5 separate regions of the Homo sapiens genome follow, and all the other regions are reported to be linked to region 1. Evidence: microRNA targets listed by miRTarBase, many of them from high-throughput screens and not tested one by one. Region 1 holds a microRNA gene; each other region holds the end of a gene's coding sequence.

Region 1 (4,122 bases):
CAGCGAGGGGTCAGGAGTGATGCCCGAGGTCTTACTTTTCAGAGCCAGAGCTCGGTGCATCAATGACTCTGAAGCAAGCACTCCATCTCGGGGTAACATGATCCTGTAACGCAGGGCTCCTCTGATGTGGTCTGCTTGCCTTTTACAGCATTAGGGGAGCAACATTTCATGGAAAATTCAATAAATCCCCCTGTACAGCCAGACGTCTGTAAACAATGGCTTCCAAATTCAATCAGGCTGGGGACCCGCAGCAGCATTTATGAGCTCTAACGTGGAATATTATATAGGGGAGTGAGTAGCAGGGGGCTGGGGGAAGGGACTTCCTGGAAGAAGAAAGCTCCTGTGTGGCTCCTGCTCTCAGATGTTGCGGTGGAGGTGATTCTCCAGGTAGAAGTCCTAGCCATGCGACCTCTTAGGCTGGGCCTGGGGGGCCACTGAGCCATGGCTCTGGGCCTGGGGAGGAGGACAGGGATCTGGCCTTCTGGTACTGGCCATGAAGAGGCTGGGTGGCCGGAAGAACCAGGACCGAGAGTGAGCTCGCCAGCTTCTCCTCCCACGTCCTGCAGCCCATGCTTACCTGGCAAGCAGTGTGAGTCATCTCGGGTGCTTATTGTCTTTGTCACACCTTCCACCTCCTTTTACAAACCTTCTACCCACTTTGGTTCTATGGTCTGGTGATGATCTTCAGAGAACTAGCCCCTTTCTCTCTCAGGTTCAGAATGCCCCTCACTCAGTTCAGAAAGGTTTGCAATGAGGTAGGAGAACATGCAAGAAAGGGTTTCTCCTCGTCTCTACTATAAATAGAAAATTAGCCGGGCGTGGTGGCGCATGCCTGTAATCCCAGCTACTCGGGAGACTGTGGCAGGAGAATTGCTTGAACCCAGGAGGTGGAGGTTGCAGTGAGCCGAGTTTGCGCCATTGCACTCCAGCCTGGGCAACAAGAGTGAGACTCCATCTCAAAAAAAAAAAAAAAATTGGGTTTCTGATGAAGAGGTTGCAGTATGCTGTTTTAGGGAGGCTCAGAGGTCTCACCCATCTTTAGGCCCCCTAGATATCTCCTCTCCTTGGCCCTGTGAACCCCTCTACACTCTGGTCAGGTCTCCTAGCCTCTGCACCCCCACCCCCACTGTTGCCCTTGCACCCTCTGCCAGGCTTTCTCCAGCAAACCACAAGGAGCATAATTGGGCAAAGGGAAGAACTAAAGGTCTGGATTCAAATCTAGTTCTTCCCATTTCCCTGTTATGGATCTTGGATTAGTCACTTCCTCCTCTGAATCTCAAGGTGGGAATAACGTGAACTGCCTTGCTGAGTGCCTGAGGATAAAATTAGATAATGGATGTAAAGTGCCTGAAAGTTAATGGCATGGAATCAGCATGAAATACACAGTAGCTTTCTTCTCCACAATTCTTCTCCTTTCAAACCTCCCTTCAATAAAGCTTCTTTTAATCCTCAGAAACTGCCCTCCCTCCAACCGAAGGTACCAGATGTCCCGTCAGCTCTTCTCTCTGTCCTGCACATCTCCGAGTTCCCTTTGTGACTGGCTCTTCTGTGAGGCCTGATTTGAATCCAACAGGAAGAGCATAGAAGATCACAATGGACCATGGCCACATGGAAGGGGTGGAGGCAACGCCGAGGTGTCCCGCTTGCCTTCCTAGAGAACTACGGCGTAAGCTCCTCAAGGGCAAGGATTTTAGCCCGCTTTGTTTGTGGCTCTATTCCCAGGGTCTAGAGCCATGCTTGACACTTGGTACATGCTCAATAAGTATTTCCTGGTTGCATTAACTCATTCAGCATCTTCTCACCATTTTCCTGTGGTTTTTCTCTGTACCCAGTGGGAGAATGGAGAGATTGCATTCCAGGACATACAACAACCCCTCCTGGAAATCAGAAATCCTCTCTTCCTTCAAAATGTCCTTGGAACACTGGTCAGGCATCCGCCGTGGAGTGGGCATGGAGCAGAATCACAGCCACAAGGCTTCTCCTTGCAGCCCACTGCTAGAAACAAACATGTCTTGGAAGGCAAAGTTCCACAAGGCTTTAGGCTAATCCATGCCCAGCCTTTGGAGATTGAAAGGATAACTTCCAGAAAGGTGAGCTAGAGATGCACTTCCCTCCTTCTCCGGAGGACAGTTCTATAGAGCCCTCAGTCAATCTTAAAACACAGGGCAACAGGGAGGAAAAGGTTGGCTAGCCCCAGAGCAATGCTGAGTGGCATTTATAAAGGATTTATCGTGTGCCAGACTCTGCACTCAGCACTTACATGCATGAACTCATTAAAACCTCGTGCTGGCTAGTACTGGTATTAGTCCCATTTTACCTATAAGGAAACTGAGGCTCAGAGAGGTTAAATAGCATGCCAAGATCACAGGGCCAAGAACAAGAGGAACAGGGTGATCCCAGGTCTGTCTGACTCCAGAGCACAAGTGACTACCCACTATAATCTACAGCCTCAGAAGACAGGGATGGAGAGCAGTCCTTGGCTCAGATGGTTCTGGGGCCCCGGCAGAGATCAAGCATTTTCCTGTCTGCTCCTGCTCTGTTCTTCTCCCACCCCCGCTCCAGTTCACAGTGGGCAACTGAGATCATTGTTTGGGAGTGGTTGTCTCCTGTGGTCCTCCCGACCTCTTGCTGGGTATTCCCTGGGGATGAGGAGGAAGATGGGACAGGGTCAGGGGAGAGCTGCTGCTCTCTGTCCCCAGCTCCACAGGCCAGTGGGATGCTCTGCTGTCCAGCTGGGACCAGTTCCGGGCAACTGGGCATAATGCAAGAGTTCTCACCCCGGGCCCAGGCTGGAGATAGGCTGCTTGCTCCACCACTCGCCACTGCCCAGTAATCCCACTCATCTGGAGGAAGGAGATTCTTTGGGATCAGAGCTGGCGTTGACCTTTTGGTTTTTCCATTTGGCAGGACGGGGGAGGGGTTCAAGAAGGCAGATCCCAGAGATATCTCCCCCCACAGCCAGATACCCAGCTTTTGGGGTTCTGGGATTGACTCCTGAAGTCGTTACATGTGAAATGCTTGCATGTATTTTTTTTTAATGCCCAAAACATGATGCAATGTTTCCTGTACACCCCGGTCACGTACTCTTGTACATGCACACACGGCTTCCACGTTGACTTCTGTGACTAGCCCCTTCCGTGCTCCGGCTTGCTTTTGCTCTCTCTACTTCCCCCTCCCTCTCTCTCTCTCATTCTCCCTGCTAGCTGCTGTAAGGATCAGTCCCCAAAGAAAAATGCCCAATTTGTCATGTCATGTCCAGCTGTTAACCTCCCGTCGGTAAGCCATGGGGAAGACTTACTTTCTCCTATTTATTTATTTGCCACTTGGACAATAGAAGGCCCCAGGCCTGCTGAGTTCTCCATAATAAAGCCACCAACGATCTCCCCCATCACCCCCTCCCCTCCCCCCAGCCCCATGTCAACAACACTAGCCAACCTGCAGGTGTCACTGGGCATTAACCCCAGGCTTAACTCTGGCTCTGCTCAACCGGAGGGAAGGGGGAGGGGGTAGCCGGCGAAGGTGGGGGGTCTGACGGGGAGGTCTCTGCACAAAGAGGAAGGCCTGGGGATGGGCTGGCTCAGAACCATCCCTCCGGAAAGCTCACTGTGCTGAGGCTGGGGGAGGGAGGGAGGGATCAACCAAATAATGCAGCTCCTTCTTCCCAGCTCTCCGATGGTCTCCAGGCAGAGCCTTGGCCAGCCGGTGGCAGGCGCCTGGGCTCACCGCACCTAGCAACACTGCCGAGAGACAGGGCCCTCCAGGAATGAGGCCCAGTGCGGCTGGCCCTGGAGCGGGCCTGGGAGGGGCTGGGGCAGGGAGGGGAGGCGCAGACCCTCCGGCCCCCAGCCCCACTCAAGGTAACCACTCCTTTCTCCAGCACTGCCTTCCTCCCCTCTCCAGCCTTCTTTGGTCAGCCCAATTTGCTACAGGAGAACTCGAGGGTTCAGGGGAAGCTGCTAGCAACGTCCCAAGGCTGGGCTCCCTGTCTCCCTGTGGATTAAATGAGAGGTGGTGGGGCAGGGGCCTGGGCAGCCCTTCCTTCTGTTCAGATGTCAGAGTGAGTTACGGATCACCCTGAAGTGCAGCCCCCATGGCCTTTCATCTGGGGCTCCCAGCCCCTTG
Region 2 (4,122 bases), not on the chromosome of region 1:
ACAAAATTGATTCTACCCATCCATGAGCATGGGATATATTTCCATTTGTTTGTGTCATCTACGACATTTTTCAGCAGTGTTTAGTAGTTTTCTTTGTAGAGTTCTTTCACCTTCTTGGTTAGGTAGATTCCTTAGTAATTTGTTTTGTTTTTCTTTTTCTTTTGCAACTATTTTCAAAATGGATGAGTTTTTTATTTGATTCTCAGTTTTGAAACCTGCATAGCCAAAGAAAGACTAAGAAAAAGAACAAACCTACAGGCATCACATTACCCAAAGTATTACAAGGCATATTACAAGTTACCAAAACAACATGGTATCAGTATAAAAACAGGCATATCGATCAATGGAACAGAAGAGAAATTCCAGAAATAAAGACAAGTACTTACAGCCCACTGAACTTTGACAAAGCAAACAGAAACATAAAGTGGGGAAATGACACCCTATTCAACAAATGGGGCTGGAATAATTGGCAATCCCCATGTAGAAGAATGAAACTGCATCTTTGTCTCTCCCTTATAAAAAGTCAACTCAAGATGGATCAAATAATGAAATCTAAGACCTGAAACAATAACAAATTCTAGAAAGTAACATTGGAAAAACTCTTCTAGACATTAGGTTAGGCAAAAACCTCATGACCAAATATCCAAAAGCAAATGCAACTAAAGCAAAGATAAAGAGTTGTGATTTAATCAAACTAAAAACTTCCGCCAGCAAAAGAAATAATCATCTGTGTAAACAGACAACTCACAGAATAGTGGAAAATATTCATGAACTATTTATCTGACAAAGGACTAATGTCCAGAATCTTCAAATGGCTAAAAAAAAGCAAAAACCCACCAAAAAGTAGCCTAATGTAATAAATAGACAATTCTTAAAAGAAGATATATAAATGGCCAACATATATGAAAAAATGCTCAACTTCACTAATTATCAGGAAAATGCAAATCAAAACCACAATGCAATACCACTATACTCCTGAAAGAATGAATATAATTTAAAAATCCAAAAATAATAAAATGTTGGCATAGATGTGGTAAAAAGGGGACAGTTTTATGCTGCTATGGGAATGTAAACTAGTACAAGTAATATGGAAAACCATATGAAGATTTCTATAAGAAATTACAGTAGAAGTACAGTTTGATCCACCTATCGCACTACTGTGTATCTTCCCGGAGGAAAGAAAATTTTTATATGAAAAAGACCCACACACATACATGTTTGCAACAGTACTATTCGCAATTAAAAAAGAAAAAGAATGGAACAAGCCTAAATGCCCATCAACCAACCAATAAGTGGATAAAGAAAATGTGGTATACATACAAACACACACACACAGATGTTGCAGGAAGTCAGGGATCCCGAATGGAGGGACTGGGTGGAGCTGAGGCAGAGGAACATAAATTGTGAAGATTTCACTTTAATATGGACATTTATCAGTTCCCAAATAATACCTTTAGAATTTCTTATGCCTGTCTTACTTTAATATCTTAATGCTGTTATCTTCATAACCTGAGGATGTACATCACCTCAGGGCCACTGTGATAATTGTGTTAACTGTACAAAGTGCTTGTAAAACATGTGTGTTTGAACAATAAGAAATCAGTGCACCTTGAAAAAGAACAGAATAACAACAACATTTAGGGGACAAGGGAAGACAACCATAAGGTCTGACTGCCTGTGAGGTGGGGCAAAAAGAGCCATTTTTTCTTCTTTCAGAGAGCCTATAAATGGACGTGCAAGTAGGGAAGATATCGCTAAATTCTTAGCCTAGCAAGGAATATTAATATTAGTAATCTGGGAAAGGAATGCATTCCTGGGGGGAGGTCTATAAACAGCCACTCTGAGAATGTCTGTCTTACGTGGTTGAGATAAGGACTGAGGTATGTCCTGGTCTCCTGCAATACCCTCAGGCTTATTAGGGTGGGGAAAATCTCCACCCTGGTAAATTTGTGGTCAGACCAGTTCTCTGCTCTCGAACCCTGTTTTCTGTTGTTTAAGATATTTATCAACACAATACATGCACCACTGAACATAGACCCTTATCAGTAGTTCTGCTTTGCCCTTTGTCCTGTTCCCTCAGAAGCATGTGATCTTTGTTCTGCCTTTTGTCCTTTGAAGCATGTGATCGTTGTACCTACTCCCTGTTCCTACACAACTCCCCACCCCACCTTTTGAAACCCTTAATAGAAAACCTGCTGGTTTGAGGCTCAGGTGGGCATCATGGTCCTACCAATATGTGATGTCACCCCCGGCAGCCCAGCTGTAAAATTCCTCTTTTTGTACTCTTTCTCTTTATTTCTCAGCTGGCCAACACTTATGGAAAATGGGAAGAACCTACATTGAAATATTGAAGGTGGGTTCCCCTGATACAAACACACACAAACACACACACACACACACGTATACACACGCATATACACTATATATATATATATATATATATATATATATATATACCATGGAATACTACTAAGCTGTAAAAAGAAACAAACTAATGGCATTAACAGCAACTTGCATGAAGTGGGAGAGCATTATTCTAAGTGAAGAAATTCAGGAATAGAAAACTGAACATCGTCAATTGTCACTTCTAAGTGGGATCTAAGCTATAAGGATGCAAAAGCATAAAGATGATGTAATGGGCTCTAAGGATTCAGATGGGAGTGTGGGAGGGGGTGAGGGATAAAGAGTATACATTCAGTGCAAGGTACACTTCTCACATGATATGTGCCACGTAACCTCAGAAATTACCACTAAAAAACGTATGCATCTAATCAAACACCACCTGTTCCCAAATAACTATTGAAGTAATTAAAAATATCAGAATAAAATCAACGAGAAAAATATCTTTAAATATCTGGAAAAAATAGAATTTGCTCATGAAACCAAAGATGTGGCAAAACAGTTCAATTTTACAGTAGGAAGCAGGTAACAGTGGCTATATTTCTAATTTCACATAATTTCCACTGAGAAATGACTTATGCTCTTAAAACAGTAAACATTTGGCCATCAATTTTAGCAAAAAATGTGACAATGAAGCTGCATGCAGTGTAAAAGTAAAGCAATACTACTTATCTCAAGATATCAAAAGGAAGAGAGAGACTTTTTATACAATTTAACTATGTAATAGTTTCTTTAGCAACAGTTAAAACAACCGAATCCTGTTCAAAATGAAGCCAAATTATTCTGAGTATGTGCAAAACACTACTGATACTGTCAGTAGACTTCTTAATGTTCTTGTGTTTATATAAAATGTGTGAAATGTAGTTAAACTGAGTAATATTTTTATGTAACTTGTGAATTCAAACAACAAATCTCAATATAAGTGCAACAAATTTCAATATGAGCTCATATGGCTTTATATTATTTTTTATTTTCCCTAGTGTTTTCTTCATTGCCACAGAATATTTCTAACCATTACCTGGGTGGTAAATCTCTGAAAAACAAATTTTTACTTGACAAGGTAGATTTTGAAAAGTTTTTTTTTTTGTCACAGGAAGAAAGAAATCTTGCATAACAATCTTTTCTTTCTTGCTGGAATAAACTGATGTCAACCCATCTATCTGGTTTTCCAGCTTCAAATGTCAGACATAACTAATCTCTTTTTCCCTTCTTCCCTTTTCTAGCAAACTTCCAGAAACAAAACAGACAAAACTTTGTGACGACAAATATCACAGTTGCCACACAGGCCAGCAGAAACCCAATCACATCCAAAGAGTGGTACTGGAACCAGGTGAGGTCACGGGCTGCAACTCGAAGGTGTTTGGCTCCTTTGTGGCACATCACAAATTCAATCCAGAAGACTGCTCGATGCAGGGGCTTTACTGGTTGATCATGTTGAATTATTGATAATTTCATAACATTCTCTTTATATCTGAAGGATAAAAATAAAGATACCAACACTGAAAGTAAGTTAACTGGCCTGTATGTATCAAGTCTATGAAAGGCTTTTAAAGTGTCAAATAATTCAAAGTAAATTTGAAAGAATTGACAGAGAATTTGTGTATTTTAATTTGAGTCATCATAGATAGTTGGGCTTTTAAATTGGACTTTTCTCATTGACAAACATTTTTAAAGCAGAAATGGAAGGTCAGGTGAGAAAATTAATTTTTTTCAAGCAGAGAA
Region 3 (4,122 bases), not on the chromosome of region 1:
CTTATACAATCAATCAGTGTACTGCATTTATGTGGTTTGCAAAGCTACTATAAAGAGGCTGTTTGAGTCTGATTATCCTATTGAGAGCTTTGTGCAAGACTCCACCAGAAATCCCATGGAGGGTGGGAAGAGTCAGAGAATAATTTAAGCATTCCTCAGTCCTTGGTTTTAATACCATCATAATATCAAAAAGCCCTACTCAAAACCCTTCACACCTCTCTCTCCTGTGTCTTATTCCTATCAGCAATGGCGCCTAGTACAATGCCTATTTTGTAACACAATAAATGTGTACCACCCCAGGTACTATCATCAACGATTCCCTTTTTCTGGACAAATCTCAGTCAAGCTCTTCAAACACAAAGGGTAATGACCACAGATAGCTGTAACCACTACAACAAGCATCTATTGAGCAAAGTGAACACTAGCTCATCACAATAACCTCACAAGGAGGTTGGATATTATAACATCCATTTTACAGATGAGCAAGCTGAATCTTAGAAAGGCCATATAACTTGACCAAGATAATAAAGACAGTATGTTGCAGAGTAGCAACTAAAACTAGATTATTTCTTAGAGTCATCATTCTATATCCCCTTTGAGTTTTTCAAGCATTTTTATGTCTGTAATCAAAGACAACAAGATATATGCTGATATTAGAATTACACAGTAAAGATATTACCATTAACAATAAAAATTAAAAGAAAGAAATTTCCTAAAGAAAATTTCCATAATTTATATTTTGCTCCAGAACTGTGAGCAATAAACTTCTGTTTCTTATAAGCCACCCAGTCTATCGTATTCTGTTACAGCAGCCTGAGGTCCTAATGAATTGCCATCTTTAGCAGGACTTATGTCCTATTAATGACTTTTTTAATGCACATTTTACTGGGCATTTTACTGGGCAGGTCGGCACTGTGCTTGAATTCATACAGTCTTTTATAGATATTGAGCAGGTTCTTCTATGTGTAATATACAATGTGTGGCTGAAGGAATGATGTTCATTTTTGCTTATGTCTCTTATTTCTGAGTAATGCATAGAACACTATATGTTTCCAATCTATTACTAACAATGATAATGACCCCAACTGATATTCTGGTTACTAGAATCTAGTCCTTAACAGCAACAAAGAAGCCATTCAGCATTCAGGTTCCAAAATATATTTGCTATATGATCAAGGGTAAAAGTTGCATTCATTTTTAGGCGAAGACTATTAACTAGCATTAGTGATCATTTTCTCCAACATTTCTGAAAAGGCTTCTGACCACTTTGTAATATTGCTTTTAAAAATTAGTCATTGAATGGCCAGGCGCAGTGGCTCAGGCCTATAATCCCAGCACTTTAGGAGGCCGAGGTGGGTGGGTCACTTAAGGGCAGGAATTCAAGACCAGCCTGGCCAATATGCTGAAACCCCATCTTTACTAAAAAAAAAAAAAAAAAAAAAAAAAAAAAAAAAAAATTGTCCAGGCCTGGTGGCAGGTGCCTGTAATCCCAGCTACTTGGGAGGCTGAGGCAGAAGAATCGCTTGAACCCAGGAGGTGGAGGTTGCAGTGAGCTGAGATCGCACCACTGCACTCCAGCCTAGGTGATAGAGCAAGACTTCTTCTCAAAAAAAATAAAGTTCTTGAAAACAATCCAAGTAAAATGTACTGAAGGGCTAAGCAAAATGTTGCATTGTACAAACTCCTTCACAGCCATGAGGCATTCCTCAAAACAGTCCTGTGAGGGACGTTGCTTTCTTAAAATATTTCACAAAAGGAGACAGTGAGGTAAAGTGAAAGGTATGGCAAAATGGGATCAACACAGATTAATGATTTTATTTCACTAAATTTGTTCAGGGATACATACTTCAGAAACGCTTAGAGAGGATTTTATCTATGGACTTGATGAAGAACTAAGATGGAATGAGATTTCATGAAAGTTAAGGTTTAAGACATACACACAGCACATAAGCACTGGGTATTTGCTGAAGGCATTTATGGAGAAGAACTGAAGTTATCATGATAATACCTTGCCAGAGGCATAAATCACCTCTCAGGCTTTCTTTTGAGGGTTCAAAAAAACACAACTCACTTCATTTTATATGCAATTTAAAATCTGACCTTTAACAAGGAATCCCCCTTTCCAGTCTTTATTTCTTTAATATTATCAAATAAAATGGCAGAGAGAGAAATTCCCTTTCATCCTCAATACTACCCATTAAGTATGCTCCTTCCTCCAAACAGCGTGCTTCCCTTGAATAACATACAGCAGTTCCAAAATAGTTTGTTACCCTCTTTAGTAAAAACATCTACAAAATTAAATTTCTTAAATGTTGATGAACAATGAAGAATGTTACACAGGGGAAAAAAAAGAAAAAAACCTTCCAAGACCAGCCCAATCACTTCTTTTTGGATGCAAAAACTAAGGCCGATGGAGGTTAAGAGATATGTCCAAGATCATATTTAGTTAATGAAAGAGCTGGGATTGGGAAGAACCCAGTTATAGACACCTTCTCTCATCCAATGTGATCCTTCTGGCTTCTATAAGGAGGTATTGGTTTTGGTTCTCCTTTCTCACACGCTGGCTGACAAAGCCCAGCCAGAGCTACCTAATGAAGACGCTGCTCACTGCTAAGCACACCAAGGGCACAGCCTTCAATACAATGAGAGCTGATGCTAAGCAAGCACTCGTCAATTCCCCCTCATGCCATGACACAGACATGAGCATCACAGACTCTTCCTGTCCTCTGGCTGCCTTCTGAGGCTTGTGGCTTTCCATGATGAAGAATGGAAATCATGACACAACAGTGGCAACAGGCTTTTAGTATCATCTAGAAACCTCCCCTCCCTCACATGGAAAGAAAACATGAGCCAGTGTTTTCCTCCTTGTCTTCTGAGGTGCTCCAGTAGATGCCCCAGACAGGAGAGCTGAACCTTCCCTATAGCAGGATCCGAAATGACAGGAAATGCCCACAAACTGAATGCCTGTGGCTGCCACTGTGACAGGCTGCACATCATCCTACGAACAGACAAATCAGCTTCAGCACAATTGGAGTTCCTGGGGGTATTCACTTCTACTCTCGCGCTGCTCAAAATGTCCAGGCTGTCCAGCCTGAATCATAAGCATAGCAATTCTTAATATTATTCTGCGCAGCAGAAGGGGTAAGTGGTAACATCTCACTAATCAAAACACACAGGAGTTACTGTGTCTTTACAAGACATTCTACTTTGAAGGGAAAATGGGAGGCGATAGGGCAAGGCACAACTAAAGAAAGTGAGAGAGGTGGCTCAGGGTATGGAGAAGAAGGTAGACACACATAAGTTCTTTTCACTTGAAGAGTGGATAGTGGATAAACTTGAAACAGCTTTTATTACTCACTTACATCCCTGGAAACCAACAGATGGGATCTCTCATTGCCAAGTTCTAATGTATTTCATGTTCATGCTCGGCTGCAGGATACCAGGTTTGCCAAATACCAATAAGCTGTTGAGAGTGAGGTGAGTATCAAGAATCTATAGCTAGATCGTCTCCCTCCATTGCACAAGGAAAGTACTCACTCTAGGTGAATTTCCACAAAAGGCAGTAAGTATGTGGGTCCACAGACACGGACATGGAAGATAACCAGTGTCCATAAGAAATATTTCCTTTTTTAGTATAAAAAATATAGTGGCTACCCCTAAGGGTAATTTACATCTATTCCTTGAAAGGGCTCATTATGAGTACTGCAGCAACTAATTATTATCCTGATGGATAGTCAACAGAATAGCTATTATGTTCAAATATTAAGGCAACCTAGAAAATAAACCTCAAGAAGGCTCTAGTCTGTTTCATTCTGATCATTTTTGAAATCAGTCCTTGAATACTAGGCCCCAAAACTCTTGAGATGAAAAGTTTTGATTCCTATCAACCAGCCACCTTAGTGCCTGGGCTTCTTTCTTGGATTGTTCAAAGCTGGAAATCCACATCTCTCGCAAAGAGCTCAAAGGTGGAGTCCGGAGTGGTGAGAAAGCAAACACTGTGGGCTCTGGGCAACTCAGGTGGGTATCTTCTGCCTCCCATCTTTTGGGTGGTAAGCCCTGCAGGAAGAGAAAAGAGAAATGAATTAAAAACATATGATAATGAAGCACAATTCCCTTAAAGCA
Region 4 (4,122 bases), not on the chromosome of region 1:
AATGATTTTTGAAAAGACTTGCAAGACCATTCCATGGGGAAAATAAGTTTTTTTCAGTAAATGTTGCTGGGGAAACTTGATATCCATATGCAAATGGATAAAGTTGGAACCTTATTTTACACAACATACAAAAAATCAACTAGAAATGGATCAAAGACCTAAACATAAGAACTAAACTTACAAAATTATAGGGTAAAAGCTTCATAATATTGAATTTGGCAATAATTTTTTTGATATGACACCAAAAGCACAGGCAATAAAAGAAAAAAGTGAGATACAGCAAAATTTAAATGTGTGCAACGAAGAACACAATCAAGAGTGAAAAGGCAATCTAAAGAATGAAAGAGAGTATTTGCAAATCATATAGCTGATAAAGCATTAACATGAGTACACAAAGCACTCCTACAACTCACACCAAACAACCCAATATAAAACTGGGCAAATGACTTGAATAGACATTTCTCCAAGGAAGATATATAAATGGTCAAAAAGTACATTAAAAGATGCTCTACATCACTATCATTAGGGAAATGCAAACTAAAATCACAAGATACCACCTCACATCACTTAGGATGGCTACCATCAAAAAATAAAAATAACAAGTGTTAGCAAGCATATGGAGAAATTGGAACTCTTGTGTACTATTGGTGGGAATATAAAATTGTGTAGCCCCTTATGGAAAGTGTATGTATGGCACTTTCTAAACAAATTTAAAATGGAATTACCATATGATCTAGCAATTCTACTTCTAGGTATATAACCAAAAGAATTGGAAAAAAAAATGGTTGTTTTTTAATATCTCTAAAAGTGAAGAAAAAAAGGTCTTGAACAAATACTTGTACACCCATGATCACAGCAGCGTTATTCACAATAGCCAAAGGTGGAGGCAACCCAAGTGTCCATTGACAGATGAATGGACAAACAAAATGTGGTATATACACACACTGGAATATTATGCAACCTTAAAATGCAAGGAAATTTGGACACATGGACAAACCTTGAGGACATTATACCAAGTGAAATAAGACAGTCGCAAAAAGACAAATGTATGATTCCACTTATATGAGGTACCTAGAACAGACAACTCGTAAGAGACAGAAAGTAGAATGGTGGTTGCCAAGAGCTTGGGGGAGGAAGGAGAGTTCTTTGATAGGTAGAGTTAAAATTTTGCAAGATGAGAAGATTTCTGAAGATGAATGGTGGTGATGGCGATACATTGTGAACATACTCAATGCCACTGAGCGGTAAAACTGTTTAAGATAGTAAATCTTAAAACCGGAAGGGGAAGAAAAAAAGCCAAGCATGAGAGTGCATGCCTATAGTCCCAGCCACTTGGGAGGAGACTGAGGCAGGAAGATTGCTTGAGCCTGGGAGTTCAAGGCTGCAGGGAGCTAGGATCACACCACTGCACTTCAGCCTGGGCGACACAGTAAGAACCCATCTCTTAAAAAACAAACAAAATCCCCCACAACTCTGTATCATCATAGCCAAGTTGTCAAAGTTAGTATCATCAATTCTGGGACAAAACTAAAGTCTATGTTCTTGGAAGAAATATGCTGAAGTATTTGGGGCTCAAGGGGCAAGTTGTCGGCAAGTTACTCTGAGTCTGCAAAAATAGCTCTATGCATATACAAGATGACAGAGTCAATGACGTGGCAAAACGTTAACACTTGGTAAATATCAGTGAGTATACCGGAGTTTATTTACTATTTTTGCAACTACTATAAATTGGAAATATCTTCAAAATTAAAGGTTTTTCTGGCCAGCTAGGTTTGAGCTGCCATAAAACCAACACCAAGGATCATTTATATAGAAACTAATTTTTTCCTTCAAACACAGTACAGGAGAATCTCTTACCATTTTGAATTCCCCGGGTATGGTTTAAAACTTTTTACTTGCCAACATCGTTAAAGTTTTACCCTGTAATAGTGAAATTTTCAGGTAATTGGAGCTTACCCCATTAAATGACAAAATTGTGTAACTTAAAAATCTTTCTTAAATACAACCTTTGTTGTCTTTGTTTCAAATTTATTTTTTAATGATCAGTGTAAGGCTTCACTAGATGCCTCTGCTTTTTCCTTCTCAAGTGTTTTTGAGGGTATTTGTATGAAACATTGCAGAAAAGCTTAGGTTTTTGTCTCCATCTAGTGGCTAGCTATTACCTTCTAATGCCTTTATGCACCTGCTTTTTACAAAGCACTATATCCCACTGTGCTTCTGCGTTTGCTGGAAGTAAATAGTTTGAGAGTTTCTTGTGAGCAGTGTTTTAGTATCTAAACTTCATTATTTTAGCTGTTCAAAGGCTTTTTTGGCCAAAAGTAGTTTTATGTGTTTCTGAAGATCAAGGTGCCAATCCGTATCAGAATAGGATTTCTGAAATTAAAATAATCTAGTTGATAAAACGTTCTTGGGCCTCGTCATCTTGACCTTAAGAGACCTCTCATAATTAAGTCTATAGAGACTATTATCACAAAAATAGAGCAACAAGAAACATAGCTACAAGCTATAATTTTTCTCTCTCCTCTAACTGCTCAACTGCTCTAAGCTTTCGGCATAGTGATTTTCAGTTATATCCATATTTCCTTGAAGACAGTAGTATTTCTTGATCTTTTCTCTGTTATAAGCCCCCATCCCAGAGAAAAATGAAAATCAAAATAATTATCCCAAATAAGAGAAACACATTAATAAGATTTTGTTGGTATTCCATTTCCACCCCAACTGAGGTACTGCAATTCAATTCTGATACGACACACCCAGAGCTGGCATCAGACTCCACGGGTTTAAGAGGTCAGTCCTCCACAATACTGCCCCCACTTCAGATGCAAGCCACAAGTGAGGCATCCAGGCTACTGTCGCTTCTGACCAGCTACAAATTTGGGGTTCTCATAAACCTCTCAGGTTTAAGAACTTGCTGAAATGACTCACAGAACTCAGGAAAGCACTATCCTTCCCTAGAAAACACTATGATTAGTTTTACTACAGAAGATATGAATTAGGAGGGCCAGTCAAATGAAGGGATACATAAGGGAAGGTCTGGGAGGGAAGGCAGAGCTTCTGTGCCCCTGTCCTCATGGAGGGGAATCCTCTCCCTCCCAGCACACCAATGCTTTCACCAACCAAGAAGCGTCATTGAGCTGTGGGGTCCAGAGCTCTTCATCAGGTCCCATTTGGCAGGCATGGTTGATTAAATCAAACAGGTCACTGACTGCGTCTCAATCTCCCGGGTCCTGCTGGCCCAACCCTCTGTAGTAGCTGTTTCTGGTTACCAGCCTCCACCCTAAAGCCCACCATACAGTCACCTCGTTAGCATAACAAGAGACGCTCTATCACTCAGGAAACCACAAGTGTTTTAGACATTCCTTGTCAGCAACCAGGGGCAAAGGCCACACAAATTCCTCATTATACCACAATGAGGGAGGATTGAACCTCTAAGGGTCACAAACCCCTATAATATCATAAGATTTTTTCCCACACAACAAGAAACAATCTTTGCCCCTATTAAGAATGTATCCTCTAAGAAATGAAGAGACAGCCCCCCAAAAACCAGAATGAAATTTTATTGTGTAAAGTTTATAGAAGTATGACTAGTATTCCTTTGTACAAAGTACACAACGGTTTTAAATATAACTGAGAGAAATGTGAGTCCTATGACAACATCTGATACACGCTGAACCATTTACAGACACACTAAAAATGTTTTAAAATATCTTCTTTCTCCAAAGAGTCCATTGCGCATTTCTTAGAGTAGAGATGGGGACACATTCCAGGCAAGGTCACAATGGCATTTTGTTGCCCTCAATGCTGATTTTCACTGCGTGTGCAGATCTGCTTTTTTTCCTTATATCTGTGAACTTTCTCATCTGTTTATCCAGTCGACTGATACCCTTCTTGGAGGTCGCCTGAAACTAAGAGTAAGGGAAAAATTAAAGAGCAAACTACTGAAATACGTAAGTCTAGTTATGTCTTTCATCTTCTTATAACTGAGTTAGCAACCAGAAGAGCTTCTAGCTCTGGAATAACCAGAATGTGTGTTGATGACCTCAAGAACAACAAAGCAAGTATAGATGGTGTTAGAAACGCATATTAAACTCTCTCAGTGAAGAATAATTCTGTTGTCTGTGC
Region 5 (4,122 bases), not on the chromosome of region 1:
CCACTACAAAGGCAGAAATGCTGAAGATCATCAGCAAAAAGTACAAGGAGCACTTCCCTGAGATCTTCAGGAAAGTCTCTCAGCGCACGGAGCTGGTCTTTGGCCTTGCCTTGAAGGAGGTCAACCCCACCACTCACTCCTACATCCTCGTCAGCATGCTAGGCCCCAACGATGGAAACCAGAGCAGTGCCTGGACCCTTCCAAGGAATGGGCTTCTGATGCCTCTACTGAGTGTGATCTTCTTAAATGGCAACTGTGCCCGTGAAGAGGAAATCTGGGAATTCCTGAATATGCTGGGGATCTATGATGGAAAGAGGCACCTTATCTTTGGGGAACCCCGAAAGCTCATCACCCAAGATCTGGTACAGGAAAAATATCTGGAATACCAGCAGGTGCCCAACAGTGATCCCCCACGCTATCAATTCCTGTGGGGTCCAAGAGCTCATGCAGAAACCAGCAAGATGAAAGTCCTGGAGTTTTTGGCCAAGGTGAATGACACCACCCCCAATAACTTCCCACTGCTTTATGAAGAGGCTTTGAGAGATGAAGAAGAGAGAGCTGGAGCCCGGCCCAGAGTTGCAGCCAGGCGTGGCACTACAGCCATGACTAGTGCGTATTCCAGGGCCACATCCAGTAGCTCTTCCCAACCCATGTGAGATCTAAGGCAAATTGTTCACTTTGTGGTTGAAAGACCTGCTGCTTTCTCTGTTCCTGTGATGCATGAATAACTCATTGATTTATCTCTTTGTTGTATTTTCCATGATGTTTCTTAAAATAGAAAGTTTATTTAGATTCAGAATATAAATTTAGAAATGGCATGCATCACACATTTATTGCTGTTTATCAGGTTGGTTTAGTGATAATAATTTTGTTTTTGAAATACAAATAGAAAATCCTGAAATAATTTTTGTGATACAGAGCAAAATAACACGGCATGGGAGTAAGGTTATCCTTAGAAATTTAAAATAACTCCACAGTAAAATAGGTAGAATCTGAAGATAGAAAGGGAAGAAAAGTAAAAGTTGCTTTATTCGTGGTTTGTCTTACTCAGTTCAGTCTTTTTTTGCTCATAAATTTAAAAGTTACATACCTGGTTTGCTTAGATTATTCAAGAATGTGGAGGCCTGGGCCAAGGTCAATGACAGTGTCTCCATTGTCTTCCCTCCATTAAGAGAAGACTTTAAGAGATGAGGGAGAGAGAGCCAGAGACAGTGTTGCAACTGGGCCTGGCATGTTTCAGTGTGGTGTCCAGCAGTGTCTCCCACTCCTTGTGAAGTCTGAGGTATATTCTTTACTTTTGATTAAGAAAACACTTAACCTTCTAATTAATGGAGAGCCAAAGGGGAGTTGGTGGGAACACCATGTATAACATATTTGTATGTAAAATGATTTATCTTTTCTTTTTCCTGTTTTTCAGTGTTCTTTTTTTAAATTGTAGATTTATTTAGTTTCAGAATCTAAGTTTATGAATGGCATGAATCACTCATTTATTAAAATATATCAGGTTGGAGAGTGAGAATTTTTGCATTATGTAAAACAATTTAAAAATCTTTTAAGTCTTTTTCTGTGATCTAGAACAAGATAATATGGCATTGGAATATGGAATTTGTGAAAAGGAAATTACCTTGCAATAAAGTTGGTGGGACCAGGAAGTAGAGAAAAAAAAAGTAAAATGTGGTCAATTCTTGCTTTGTTTTATTCTTTTTAGTCTTTCTTTGTAAAACTGAAGTATATGTACCCGGATCTGCTTAGCTTTTTCAGGAATGTGGGGGAAATTAAATAGCAATACATTTGACTTCCTGGTCACTTACACTTCAATTGTCCAAATATTAATTGAGCAGCTGTACTTTGGAGGGCTCCTGGCTAGTACCGGATAAGCTAAGAAAACAAAAAACAAACAAACAACAAAAAAACCCCAATCCCTGCCCACAGAATTTTAGAATCCAACAGCAGCTATCATATAACGAAGGTAATGAGATACTCCTTAAGACCTAAAGACAGGTGAAAAGGGGATAAAAAAGAAGGTGGGGGTATTACCAGCAGTGGAATCTAGTGTAAATGTCCTAAGCAAGGTAACTGAGACTTCGGGAAACTGAACATACTGCAATAGGAGGTAATTTTATGTCCTGGCATAGTGCCTATATGGGGCGCACTGAGCAGGGGTCACACACTCAGATGGTGGATCTCACACTTGAGAGATGGAGACTGGAATGAAAAATTGCCTTTAACAGTTACTTTGGGATTGTGGAAAAACCAGAGGGGATCTTTGCCTGGAGCAGGGATTGAAAGTGGCCGGTGCTCTTGTCCCAGTGCAAGTGAAGTGAATCCAGTACACAAACTAGGTGTTTTATGAGCGTAGTCCCCAGGGTGTTTCTGAGAAATAAAGGTGATACTCCTTTAAGACTGGAAACTCATAAGCCACTGGGCTAATACTCTGCTATCAGCTGGGGAGCCAGAACCCATTCCATTAAAAGGAATTTTTTTTCCTTTCATGTGTTTTTGCAAATTCTAAGGGAGATCTAGATTTTTGATGGTGGTAAAATGAATGAAAATAAGACTGGTTTGGATGAAAGGTCAGAGTTGGTCCTTGAACCAAAGCCTAGAAGGTTTGAGTTGCTTTCAGCTGAGAAAGACAACTCCACACTCAAAATATGATTTAATATGGAAAAGTTATTTAGAGTTTCTTTGTAAGCTGCGTTTTGGGCTGATTTTATTGTTCCATGTCTTAGAATGCTGTATATTCTTTGTTATCTCTTGGACTTAAAGAAAATCAGCAGGGTGGATGATTTCTTCTGTAGTTGAAATAATCTTAGTAATAACAAGTATTGTTTAAAGTCTCAATGCACACCAGGGCTTTGCACACTTTCACCACATTCCACCAGTCCTACAAGACAAGGCTTATCAAGCTCATTTCACAGATGTAGAGCCTGAGGCTCATAGAGTTTATTAATGTGCCCAAGTTCACACAGCTAGTAAGTGATAGGGCTGGAACTAGACTGCTGGTCTGAATTCCTCTAGAGCCCACACTGTTCCACTCCTCCCAAACTGAAGCTTACTGTGAATTGCTTAATTCATTTTCTTCTACAACCCCAAAGTGTGTCTCAGGTAAGAAAGAAGAGGTCTCTGTACCCCAAACACTGGATTGGAATACATAACCAGAGCAAGAAGAATACCAAAATAATTGACAGATGTGAATTAAAGAGAAAAAGAAATAATACTCGGTGACAATATGATCACCGACAGAAGCAAAATTGGATAGCTTCAAAAGATCAAAAGATTACAAAAATCATCTGGCTCCACCCTTTTCTGTAGAAAGTAAAACTTTTAGAACTACCCTTTGGTTGGTGAAGTGAAGGAATAGATCAGCATGTTTTTTTCCCTGAGAGCACAACATCTGTCCTAGGCTCTCCACCTTCCGTTTCAGTTTCCCAACATCACATCACTTCTGGGACAGGGACCTCTTCTCTGCAAGGTTTGCAAAGAGGAAACTGGTCAAATTTTTGCAGGGATGTGACATTTCCCTGGAAGAGTTTGATCAAGAGACAGAAGCCAACATGAGAACCCTCATGAATGAATGGTGGGGAGAAAACCACTCCAAAATGTAAGGGTTCATCCAGACCCTCAGGAGAGTGACCTCAGTTCAGTAGATAGAGGAGTCCCAGGTTCTGATACATGTAAAGGCGAGGAGCATAAATGAAGACTGATGGAAGGACCCAGCCAAAACTGTGGGGTTCTATGGAGTCCTTTCCTTATTATCTGTTTTTGCAGGTTGCAAAAGGACTGTGATCATATGAAGATCATCCAGGAGTACAACTCGAAATTCTCAGAAAACAGGACCTTGATGTGAGAGGAGCAGGTTCAGGTAAACAAAGGGTAAGTTACAGGTTTGCTCACTTGTCAAGGTGAGGACCTGAATGTGGACTAAGGGTAGCTAGCACCCACATGGCCTCACAAAGTCCCCTCTGCTGTCAGCCCTAGGAAGCCTTGGCGGAGATGGCAGGCTGAATTCTGCCTGGAAAGTCTCAGGGAGATGACTGGTTCCGTCTAATTGGGGCAGCCTCAGTTTTACAGAGCGAAGAGGCCGAGACCCTAACAAGAATCAATGTAGGGCTTTTAAGTGTT

What was found. Region 1 holds the annotated microRNA hsa-miR-5584-3p (UAGUUCUUCCCUUUGCCCAAUU, at 1,180-1,201, opposite strand). A microRNA usually pairs through its seed, bases 2 to 8, with sites in the 3' UTR of a target mRNA and lowers its output. Matches are read on the target gene's strand: a 7mer-m8 pairs with bases 2 to 8, a 7mer-A1 pairs with bases 2 to 7 and ends in A, and an 8mer does both.
Region 2: the mRNA of UGT2B28 is a reported target of hsa-miR-5584-3p. The part of its 3' UTR that is shown has no 7-base or 8-base seed match.
Region 3: the mRNA of POFUT3 is a reported target of hsa-miR-5584-3p. Seed matches in the 3' UTR shown: 7mer-m8 at 3,300-3,306.
Region 4: miRTarBase lists IWS1 as a target of hsa-miR-5584-3p. The part of its 3' UTR that is shown has no 7-base or 8-base seed match.
Region 5: miRTarBase lists MAGEB4 as a target of hsa-miR-5584-3p. The part of its 3' UTR that is shown has no 7-base or 8-base seed match.

What each region holds. Positions count from the first base shown.
Region 1 is chr1:44,542,610-44,546,731 of GRCh38, reverse strand. MIR5584 (microRNA 5584) reads right to left here and starts at 1,239; the gene lies at 1,180-1,239. All of the region lies in intron 2 of RNF220 (ring finger protein 220), which reads right to left. RefSeq lists an enhancer at 496-1,022.
Region 2 is chr4:69,294,279-69,298,400 of GRCh38, reverse strand. UGT2B28 (UDP glucuronosyltransferase family 2 member B28) reads right to left here. Exons shown (of 6, transcript NM_053039.2): 6 at 3,351-3,871. The coding sequence ends at 3,592. Among named protein-coding and RNA genes, the nearest start is that of UGT2B28, 16 kb to the right of the region's middle.
Region 3 is chr8:33,368,749-33,372,870 of GRCh38, forward strand. POFUT3 (protein O-fucosyltransferase 3) reads right to left here. Exons shown (of 5, transcript NM_032664.3): 5 at 2,076-4,056. The coding sequence ends at 3,829. Among named protein-coding and RNA genes, the nearest start is that of POFUT3, 100 kb to the right of the region's middle.
Region 4 is chr2:127,477,271-127,481,392 of GRCh38, forward strand. IWS1 (interacts with SUPT6H, CTD assembly factor 1) reads right to left here. Exons shown (of 14, transcript NM_017969.3): 14 at 3,542-3,905. The coding sequence ends at 3,774. Among named protein-coding and RNA genes, the nearest start is that of IWS1, 47 kb to the right of the region's middle. RefSeq lists an enhancer at 2,537-3,488.
Region 5 is chrX:30,242,521-30,246,642 of GRCh38, forward strand. It overlaps MAGEB4 (MAGE family member B4), which reads left to right. Exons shown (of 1, transcript NM_002367.4): 1 at 1-1,667. The coding sequence ends at 656. It also overlaps a transcript of MAGEB1 not described here. Among named protein-coding and RNA genes, the nearest start is that of MAGEB1, 2.6 kb to the right of the region's middle.